2 linked regions of the Homo sapiens genome follow. The protein of the gene in region 1 purifies or fractionates together with the protein of each later gene. This does not show direct contact. Each region holds a gene or a part of one and is shown on either strand. Other genes may lie near its edges.

Region 1 (5,396 bases):
CAGGCTGGTCTCGAACTCCTGACCTCAGGTGAACCTCCCACCTTGGCCTCCCAAAGTGCTGGGATTACAGGTGTGAGCCACAGCGCCAGGCCTGTAGTAAAAAATATCAACAACCACTGCTAAAGGATCAGGGCTTTTTGCCTTTTATTTCTTGGGCATCGTTTTCCTCTCCGTGACACCTCTTAATTAAGGATATGTAGAGTGGTGTTTTGAGGAAGGCTCAGGGAGGAGAGAGTTGCCAGGCTGCAGGCACTGCTGACTCAGCTGGAAGCAACTTTCCTGTTTAACCATCTTGGAATGCAGCTGCTCCTCTTTGAGCTGTTGCTCTAGGGACTGCCTGGCCATTTGGGATGGAGGGACTCTCCCACTGCATTCTGGAGTGCCGCTCTTCTTCCCTGCCTCCTGAAAAGCTCCAGGCTCTCTTCCCAGTCCCCCGACTCCCATGTTACCAGATTTCTTCCCCTCTGAATTCTTCCCACTCTCTCTCAGCGCCCCAGGCTGAGCTCGGCACCAACACCGCCCTCCATCCTGTGTCCTCAGTGCCCTCCCTAACTCACAGCGCTTCACACCAACAGGTCAGGCCGGCTCCGGCGTCAAACCCAAGCCACAAGTCTACTCTACCCTCCTCAACAGTGGCTGCCAAGGGGGCGAGCATGCGGCCTGCTTCACAGAGCTGCGGAGGAACTTTGTGAACATTCGCCCAGCCAAGTTGAAGAACCTAATCTTGCTGGTGAAGCACTGGTACCACCAGGTGAAGCCACTTGGAAGGGTTTCTCCAGACATGTGACTGTTTGCTTTGTGCTTTCATAGTCGTGAAACTGTTGTCTTACATTTAGTGGCCATTCATGTTCTCTCTCTGGGAATTGTCTGTTTATGTCCCTTGTGCATTATTTTCTCTTGGGTTAGCTGTCTTGTTACTGATTTGTTGAAGCTCTTTATATATTGTGGATACTGATCCTTATTTAGTTAATATAATGCATTCTTCCAATAGTCTTCCAGTCTGTGTCTTGGGCTTTTGCTTTGTTTAAAGGTTATTTGTAGGACAAAATATCTACAGTTTAATGTACTCAGATATATCCTTTGAAAAATGAGTTATTCTTTGTGTGTCTTAAGAAGTCTTTCCCTATCCTGCCAGGTGCAGTGGCTCATGGCTGGAATCCCAGCACTTTGAGTGGCCGAGGCAGGTGGATCACTTGAGGTCAGGAGTTCAAGACCAGCCTGGCCAACATGGTGAAACCCTGTCTCTACTAAAAATACAAAATGTAGCCGGGCGTGGTGGTACACACCTGTAATTCCAGTTACTCGGGAGGCTGAGGCAGGAGAATCTCTTGAACCCAGGAGGCAGAGGTTGCAGTAAGCCAAGATTGCACCACTGCACTCCAGCCTGGGTGACAGAGCCAGACTCCATCTCAAGGAAAAAAAAAAAAAAAAAAAAAAGAGGTCTTTCCCTGTCCTGACTTTGTAAAATGACTCTTTCATATTTCCTGCCATCATATTGTTTCCTATTGTATTTCTGTTCATATTCAGGGCTTTGGCCTGTCTGGTATGGTATGAGGTATATGCGGAGTTGGTACACTTCCCTCCCTAGCCTCAGGGATGCTCCCTTGCTCTGTTCATGTTTGTTGCCAGACTCTTATGCACTGGGGAAAGTGTGCCCAGCCTATGCCTGGAGATGGGGGAACAGGCTCCCCCAAAATCTTGCAGCACATGGACCAGTCATCATAAGCAGGTCTCTCAAGGAAGAGATTCTGGATTCCAGTTCTGGCTCAGCCATCTTCTTGCTGTGTGACCCTGGACAAGTTCCTAGCCTTCTCTGGGCCTCTGTTTCCTCCACTTGCACATAAAGAAATATATGCATCGGCAAATCTTACTCAGGTTCTTTCCATGTAAGATTCTCCAGGGGCAGAAAATGCTAATAGCCTGGTACTTCCTAAAAGGGCAAACTGCTGGGTATGGTGGCTCACGCCTGTGGTCCTCTCCACGCAGGAGGCTGAGGCGTGAAGATCACTTGAGCCCAGGAGTTCAAGGCTGCAGTGACCTAAGATTGAGCCACTGCACTTCAGCCTGGGCAACAGAGTAAGACTCTGTCTATAAATTAATTAATTAATTAATACAACTATGGAGCCAGCCTGGTTGGGCGTTAGAAATTCTATCTTGATCTGGGTGGTGGGTACACATGTGCACCCACGCATGTTTGTCACCCCAGAGAGAGGGGGTGAGCGGAGGGAGTGTGGAGATGCTGGGTGCTTCTAGCCAGGGGGGTCACTTTCTGGCATGCTGAAGCATCCCCTCTGGAGTTACCCAGAGGCCTGGGATTCTTGCCTTGGCATGGAGTAATCCCTCCCTGGTACGTGGAGATCCCAAGTATATGGTGCACAAATAGAAATCATGCATTTTGGGATGGGGGATAGACGGCTGGAGTGAGGAGGGAAGGACAGAGTTCTGGCCCGCTGCCCCACCCCACTCCAGGGGTGAAAGGGCGACAACTTGGTGTCCTTCTCCAATCAGCCACGCAACTGGGACCCCAGATCTGCTTCACCTTTATTTGAGGATAGATAGCAATTTCAGACTACCCTTGGCTTCTCTCTGACTGCTCCCTGCCTCCTTGGGACTTGAAACTTACACCCCTCCCTCCCACCACTCCCCCATCATATGAGCCAACCACTTGGCTGAAGCTACCAGTGAGGGCTGGTGAGAAATGCCACTTGTTCTTGGAACAGGCTTGGAACACAGCATCTTGCCTCAGGCTCGGCCTGGAAGGTCCCCAGTCTGGTTATGCAGAGAGCTGGCTCTCTTTCCTCCCCTTCTTCCTTCTGAGTCCCCTGCCGATGCCCTCTCACAGGTGTGCCTACAGGGGTTGTGGAAGGAGACGCTGCCCCCGGTCTATGCCCTGGAATTGCTGACCATCTTCGCCTGGGAGCAGGGCTGTAAGAAGGATGCTTTCAGCCTAGCCGAAGGCCTCCGAACTGTCCTGGGCCTGATCCAACAGCATCAGCACCTGTGTGTTTTCTGGACTGTCAACTATGGCTTCGAGGACCCTGCAGTTGGGCAGTTCTTGCAGCGGCAGCTTAAGAGACCCAGGTACTTCCTAATAGCCCACCATCTGCTCTCCTGTCCCGGGGCCAGGGGGAGATAATTGACAAGGACAAAACCGGTTACATCTACTGAGTGCTTGGGTATAGAGGCCAAAGCAAAATGCTACATGTACATGTTTTAATTCACTGGACTCAGCCCAGATGCACATTAGAATTACCTGGGGGAGTTTTAAAAAATATACCAGTGCCTGGCCCCACAAGTTTTATGCGTGAATGTTTTGCTGATGTATAGCAGAAAGTGCATGTTCTGATGACTGTGTGAAGACCGCATACTTTGAAACCACCACCCAGATCATGGTAGAATATTTCCAGCACCCCACTGGTCCCCTCTCAGTCAGTAACCTTCCAAAATAACCCCACTTACACTTTTATAATTACAGTTGTGCCTTTTCTTAAATCTTATTTAAATGGAATCATGCCACATGTACTTTTGTGTCTGGCTTCTCGTTCTGTTCTCAAGATTAAGTCTTTGAGATTTAGCTATATAGTTGTGGATCATTCTTTTTTGTTGCTGTATAGTATTCCATTGTGTGAATTTATCAAAATATGTTGTCTATTCTACTGATGATGGACATTTGAGTTCTTTCAACTTGGAACTATTACAAATAGGGCCATCATAAACATTCTTGGACATGTTTTTTTGGTGCATATGCATATCTGTTGGAAATATACCTAGGAATGAAATTGCTGAATTGTAGGGTGTAACTCAAGAGCCCTTGAGAGTGGATCCTGGTATCTTGTGATTCCAACGTGCAGCCAGGGTTGACAATGATAAGCAGGCAATGTTGTTTTCCTCATTTTGCGGATAAGGAAATCGAGGCTCAGAGAGGGTAAATCATTTGCCCCAGGTCACACAGCTGGAAAGTAGCAGAGATGCGATTGGAACCAGGTCCGTTTCACTCCAGAGCCCTCTTGCTAACCAGAACCTTCTTGTCTCTCTGAAATTGCAGGCCTGTGATCCTGGACCCAGCTGACCCCACATGGGACCTGGGGAATGGGGCAGCCTGGCACTGGGATTTGCTAGCCCAGGAGGCAGCATCCTGCTATGACCACCCATGCTTTCTGAGGGGGATGGGGGACCCAGTGCAGTCTTGGAAGGGGCCGGTAAGTGAGGGGGCCCCAGGACCCTTGGGTTTTGCACTTTGTTTATGTGTCCAGTGTTTCCTGAGCATCTACTATGTGCCATATGGTGTGGAACAGGCTTTAAAAAGCAGGGGTGGCCAGGTGTGGTGGCTCACGCCTGTAATCTCAACACATTGGGAGGCCGAGGTGGGCAGATTACCTGAGGTCAGAGGTCAGGAGTTCGAGACCAGTCTGGACAATATGGTGAAACCTTGTCTCTACTAAAAATACGAAAATTAGCCAGGCATGGTGGTGGGTGCGTGTAATCTCAGCTACTCGAGAGGCTGAGGCAGGAGAATTGCTTGAACTAGGGAGGCGGAGGTTGCAATGAGCTGAGATCACTCCATTGCACTCCAGCCTGGGTGACAGAGTAAGACTCCGTCCCAAAAAAAAAAAAAAAAAAAATGCACAGGGCATCAGGCATGTAAAACAGTCTTATCACCAAGCTCAAGCTGAAACTGCCCGGGGGAAGGAGTCCTTTGTTTTTCTGCAGCTATGGTCTGGTTACCAGACCTTTCTGCCCATCACAAGGGCACCCATTTTGCAGTTTATCCCTCCAGAAAGGCACCTTTTTCAACTCTGCCCAAAGATGGCCATGTGCGTTAGCCATGGCCCTCCCACTTCCCCTCTCTGAGCCTCAGTCACCCTGACTGTACAAAGGGCGGGAGCTGGGGAGAGAAGGCATTGGGTTGATGCAGAAACCACTGCGCCTGGCTGAGGCAGCTCCTTCAATGACCTTCCAGGGCCTTCCACGTGCTGGATGCTCAGGTTTGGGCCACCCCATCCAGCTAGACCCTAACCAGAAGACCCCTGAAAACAGCAAGAGCCTCAATGCTGTGTACCCAAGAGCAGGGAGCAAACCTCCCTCATGCCCAGCTCCTGGCCCCACTGGGGCAGCCAGCATCGTCCCCTCTGTGCCGGGAATGGCCTTGGACCTGTCTCAGATCCCCACCAAGGAGCTGGACCGCTTCATCCAGGACCACCTGAAGCCGAGCCCCCAGTTCCAGGAGCAGGTGAAAAAGGCCATTGACATCATCTTGCGCTGCCTCCATGAGAACTGTGTTCACAAGGCCTCAAGAGTCAGTAAAGTGAGTTGGGCCAGTGGAGACACAGGGGGGACCCTATCGAGGGATCAGCGTGGGGAAGGGAAGGAGTTACAGCAATGGAGCTGAGGTTGGG
Region 2 (4,648 bases), on another chromosome or scaffold:
TTTCAGCTGACCCTGAGTGTTGGTCCCGAAGTTCCAGCCACAGCTCCTCTCCCCACCACTGACTGTTCTTCTTACCACTTAGGCAGCTGGGTCCCAGCTATTGCTGAGGCCGGTGGAGTTCCCTGTTCCCATGTGCCTCCCTGTTCCTCCCCCACATCTGTTCCTGATCTACAGCTAGAAAATGCTGCAAAGAAGAGAGAGCGAGCAACAAGCGACCCAAGGACCACAGAACAGAAACAAGAGAAGAAACGACTCAAAATTTCCAAGAAGCCAAAGGACCCAGAGCCACCAGAAAAAGAGTTTACGCCTTACGACTACAGCCAGTCAGACTTCAAGGCTTTTGCTGGTGAGGAAGTAATGGGGCCCCATACAGGGACATCTGTGCGCGTCAGAGGGGAGGAAGCCATAAAGAGACCACAATATAGGGGCCAAGTGAGTCCTGCACAAGGCATGGTGCTAGCCAGGAATTGTTGGAGTAGTCCAGAGAGGCCGTGGCAATGTGGACAGTCGCCTGCAGCCTCATTACCACCTCCTCCATGGGAGCTCAACTCATGGTGGCCTCCATGGTGGGTTAGCAAGATCACCTGTCACTTCCACTGTGACCAGGGCGCCATCCTTCCTCACTATAACTTGTGCCCATAAACCCTCTCTCTCTCTCTCACACACACACACACACAGAATTTTGTTTGTTGAAAAATCTCAAAGCCTATGACATGAACCCCTATGGCTGCTTGGGCTGTGAGAGTCCGTCTGCTTTGAAGGGGCTACAGATGGCATTCTCGACTCTAGCAGCCTTCGGAGCAACATGCTCCTTTGGAAAAGAGAAAGCAGAGGCCAGTCCACACAATGGCCCTTTATACAGGAGTGTCGCCTCAGAGCCCGAGTTCCTTATGGCATCACCCAGCACAGAGATCAGAATGGATTTCCTTATGTGCGGGGGCCACTGCTGTAGCCACCTGCCCCTAAGGTCCTGGGACTAGAGCTGAGAGAAATGGGCCTGGTTTTCAGACTGCCCACAGGGACCAGGATCGCTATGTATTCATTTATGTGAGCCATGAGCCCTAGCCCCTCATCGTGACAGGGGTGCTCTCACAGCCAAGGCTTCCCTGAGTGTCATGGTCCCGGCCTCGCTGTGAGCCTGTGATGTGTGGTAACTCATTGACCTGACCGCAGGTCTCTCTCATCTCTTACCTTTCAGGAAACAGCAAATCCAAAGTTTCTTCTCAGTTTGATCCAAATAAACAGACCCCGTCTGGCAAGGTAAGAACTGCTCCTGGAGGATTTTAGCACGCTGGTGGCGCCTGTTTCTGACCTCCTCCTCTGCTGAGAAGACAGGCCCATCCAGGAGTCCATTCCTTTGCATATCTTTTTCCTCACCTCATTTCTTCCCAAGGGCAGACAGTACTGATCAGCTACCCCAGCAACTCATAAAACGAGGCTGTAAAAGCTGGCATGTGGCTTTAAAGGGTATTATTCTGTGTTTGCTACCATGGGAACTATAGCTGCAGGCCAAAAGCACCCCCTTTGGGGCCAGCACAAGCCTGCATTCACCCCTCGTGGGTGTTGGTGCTGGTGCCAGGGAAACAGCGTGGCTGTAGCTTCCACAGGCGCGGGGGCAGGGCTGCTTTGGGGTGCTCCTGTTCCTCTTGCAGCGCATCCTGGCGGCCTTGCCTTCAGAGACACAGAAACATCCTCTCTCAGGGGATCTAAAGTCACTCCTGTGCTGCTAGAATCTTTGGCCACCTGAGCTCAGGTGTGTTTTTCTGTGTATCTTGTGGTCAAGGTGCCCACCCAGCTTAAACGGTTTCTTTTCTTTTCAGAAATGCATTGCAGCCAAAAAAATTAAACAGTCGGTGGGAAACAAAAGCATGTCCTTTCCAACTGGAAAGTCAGACAGGTATGTGGTGGACGGCGGTGTGGCCCAGGGAGCCCAGTGAGAAAGCACCTGCCCTGCGTGGTGTGGTCCGTGGGGAGTAGCTGGGGAGCGAGTGTCCAGGGGTCTTCAACCAGGATGACTCAGAGAACCTCCCACAGCCAGGTCCCTCACGCCACTCGGAAAACAAGGGCGGGAGGTGATTTGCTCTGTGCCATACATCACAGAGCCAGGCACTGCACCCCAGGACTCAGATTCCCCTTGTTCCTGGCTCTCTAGTTACCGTGTGTCCTGGGGTCACCTCAGGGAAAATAGGTGTAAATAGTTGTGAAATTTTCCTGGACCAGCCTATTAGGAATGAGGAAAAAGTAAGCACATGTGGGTTATCCTTGTTGTTGAAGAGTGGTTTGGCTTGGTTTGGTTTTGTTTTGTGAGAGTCTCATTCTGTCACCCAGGCTGGAGTGCAGTGGCACAATCTCAGCTCACTGCAACCTCCACCTCCTGGGTTCAAGCAAGTCTCTCACCTCAGCCTCCCGAGTAGCTGGGATTACAGGTGCCTGCCATCATGCCCGGCTAATGTTTTTTTTTTTTTTCTTCTTTGAGATGGAGTCTCGGTCTGTCGCCCAGGCTGGAGTGCAGTGGCACGATCTCTGCTCACTGCAAGCTGCGCCTCCCGGGTTCACGCCATTCTCCTGCCTCAGCCTCTCGAGTAGCTGGGACCACAGGCGCCCGCCATGATGCCCGGCTAATTTTTTGTATTTTTTAGTAGAGACGGGGTTTCACCATGTTAGCCAGGATGGTCTCGATCTCCTGACCTTGTGATCCGCCCGCCTCGGCCTCCCACAGTGCTGGGGTTACAGGCGTGAGCCACCGCGCCCGGCCTGTTTTTGTATTTTTAGTAGAGATGGGGTTTTGCCATGTTGGCCAGGCTGGTCTCAAACTCCTGGCCTCAATTGATCCTCCCGCCTTGGCCTCCCAGAGTACTGGGATTACAGGTGTGAGCCACTGCACCCAGCCAAATGTTTTTGTTAAAAACATAAAATCCTAATAATTAAGCCGACCCTGAGGTCAGGGGACTTGCCCGAGGGCAGGAAAAACAGGTCTGCCTTCTCAAGATGCTGCTCAGCTCAGCCAACTCTGGTGGGCCGCCGAGTTCTCTGGGGCCCCTGAGCAAACCATTCTTCCTCTGTTCTGCATGATTAAGATTTGCACCATTTTGTAAACCATCTGAGAACATCCAACCAGCCCGGAAGAAATAACTGTTGTTTTTGTACTCTCTGCAGAGGCTTCAGGTACAACTGGCCACAGAGATAGTCCTGGAAGACACGTGGCGCCTGTGGACCGGAAGCACCAAATGCTGGTGCTGCTTTTGTACATACATATTTTTAAACCATTAAAATTCTTCCTGAAGAAAGCTGATTCCTGACTTTTATTTTGTTGCCGCCACAGCTCTGGCAGGTTGCCATCCTGTTCAGGCAACCATCTTCAGCTGTCTGTGGGCAGGTGAGTGTGCTCCGGGGGTTATGGTGACTTCTAGAAAAATCCAGAGCCGGCCGGGTGCGGTGGCTCACGCCTGCAATCCCAGCACTTTGGGAGGCTGAGGCAGGCGGATCACGAGGTCAGGAGATCGAGACCATGCTGGCCAACACGGTGAAAGCCTTTCTCTACTAAAAATACAAAAAATTAGCCGGGCATGGTGGTGGACGCCTGTAATCCCAGCTACTCAGGAGGCTGAGGCAGGAGAATCGCTTGAACCTAGGAGGCGGAGGTTGCAGTGAGCCGAGATCACGCCACCTCATTTGAGCCTGGGCAGTAGAGCAAGACTCTGTCTCAAAAAAAAAGGCAAATGCAAAGAGAAAATTTTAATCATTTGTAGTCCTGTCACACAAAGATGCTTTTTTCCTTTTTTTGAGACAGGGTCTCACTCTGTTGCCCATTCTGGAGTGCAGTAGTGTGATCCTAGCTCACTGCAGCCTTGACCTCCCAGGCACATGCCACCACACCTGGGTAATTTTTCTTATGTTTTATAGAGATGGGGTCTTGCTGTGTTGCCCAGGCTGGTCTTGAACTCCTGGCCTCAAGCAATCCTCCTGTCTTGTCCTGCCAGTGTTGGGATTTCAGGCATGAGCCACCACACCCAGCTGAGATTAACATTTTGCTGTATTTCCTTATAAGCTTTCGCTATGTGTATATAGATATATTTTTAAAATATATCTTGGGTTCAGGTTTCTATCATTTGTCACCTTGAAAGTTTGTGTTATGACACTTTTCTCAATCTAAAATTTATTTTCGCCAACCCCCATTGTTAAACGCTTAGGTTTTCATTTTTGGTACTATTCTTAATAATGCAGCACTCACTAAACTTTTATATAAATTTGTGACCCAGTCTCTGATAATTTCTTTAGAACTTCATTTTATTTTAATCCTGAGATGGGCTAATAAATCAGGAAAGCACAAAATGCCATTACTTTGGTTTTTACAAATACTTAACCTAGAAACCTTTTTTCTTTGAAATTCATCCCACAAAGTATTGAGATTGCCAACTGTATATGATAACCTTTGGGGGGTACCAAGCCAAATCACACATCACTGCCGTCAGAGAGCTCCCACTCTTGAACAGCAGAGAACAGCCCTGTCCTAAGATAGGCTGGAGTTTGTTTTAGCTAGGACTAGACTGGTTGAAAATGACAGAAAAGCCAAACTATAGTGACTTTTAACAAGAGAGATGATTTTCCTCCTCTTTTGTAAACATAGTTGGCCCAGAGCTAGTGTGAT

The links. The genes of interacting proteins can lie anywhere in the genome.
Region 2: the proteins of OAS3 (region 1) and EXOSC10 purify together in Homo sapiens (affinity purification with mass spectrometry; one large-scale study listed by BioGRID and IntAct). This does not show direct contact.

What each region holds. Positions count from the first base shown.
Region 1 is NC_000012.12:112,943,901-112,949,296, forward strand, and holds part of OAS3 (2'-5'-oligoadenylate synthase 3), read left to right. Parts: intron 1-575; coding exon 576-751; intron 752-2,842; coding exon 2,843-3,081; intron 3,082-4,045; coding exon 4,046-4,199; intron 4,200-4,960; coding exon 4,961-5,305; intron 5,306-5,396.
Region 2 is NC_000001.11:11,065,257-11,069,904, reverse strand, and holds the end of EXOSC10 (exosome complex component 10), read left to right. Parts: intron 1-174; coding exon 175-346; intron 347-1,198; coding exon 1,199-1,260; intron 1,261-1,820; coding exon 1,821-1,897; intron 1,898-3,156; coding exon 3,157-3,187; 3' UTR 3,188-3,287; downstream 3,288-4,648. UniProt on the Homo sapiens protein: Catalytic component of the RNA exosome complex which has 3'->5' exoribonuclease activity and participates in a multitude of cellular RNA processing and degradation events.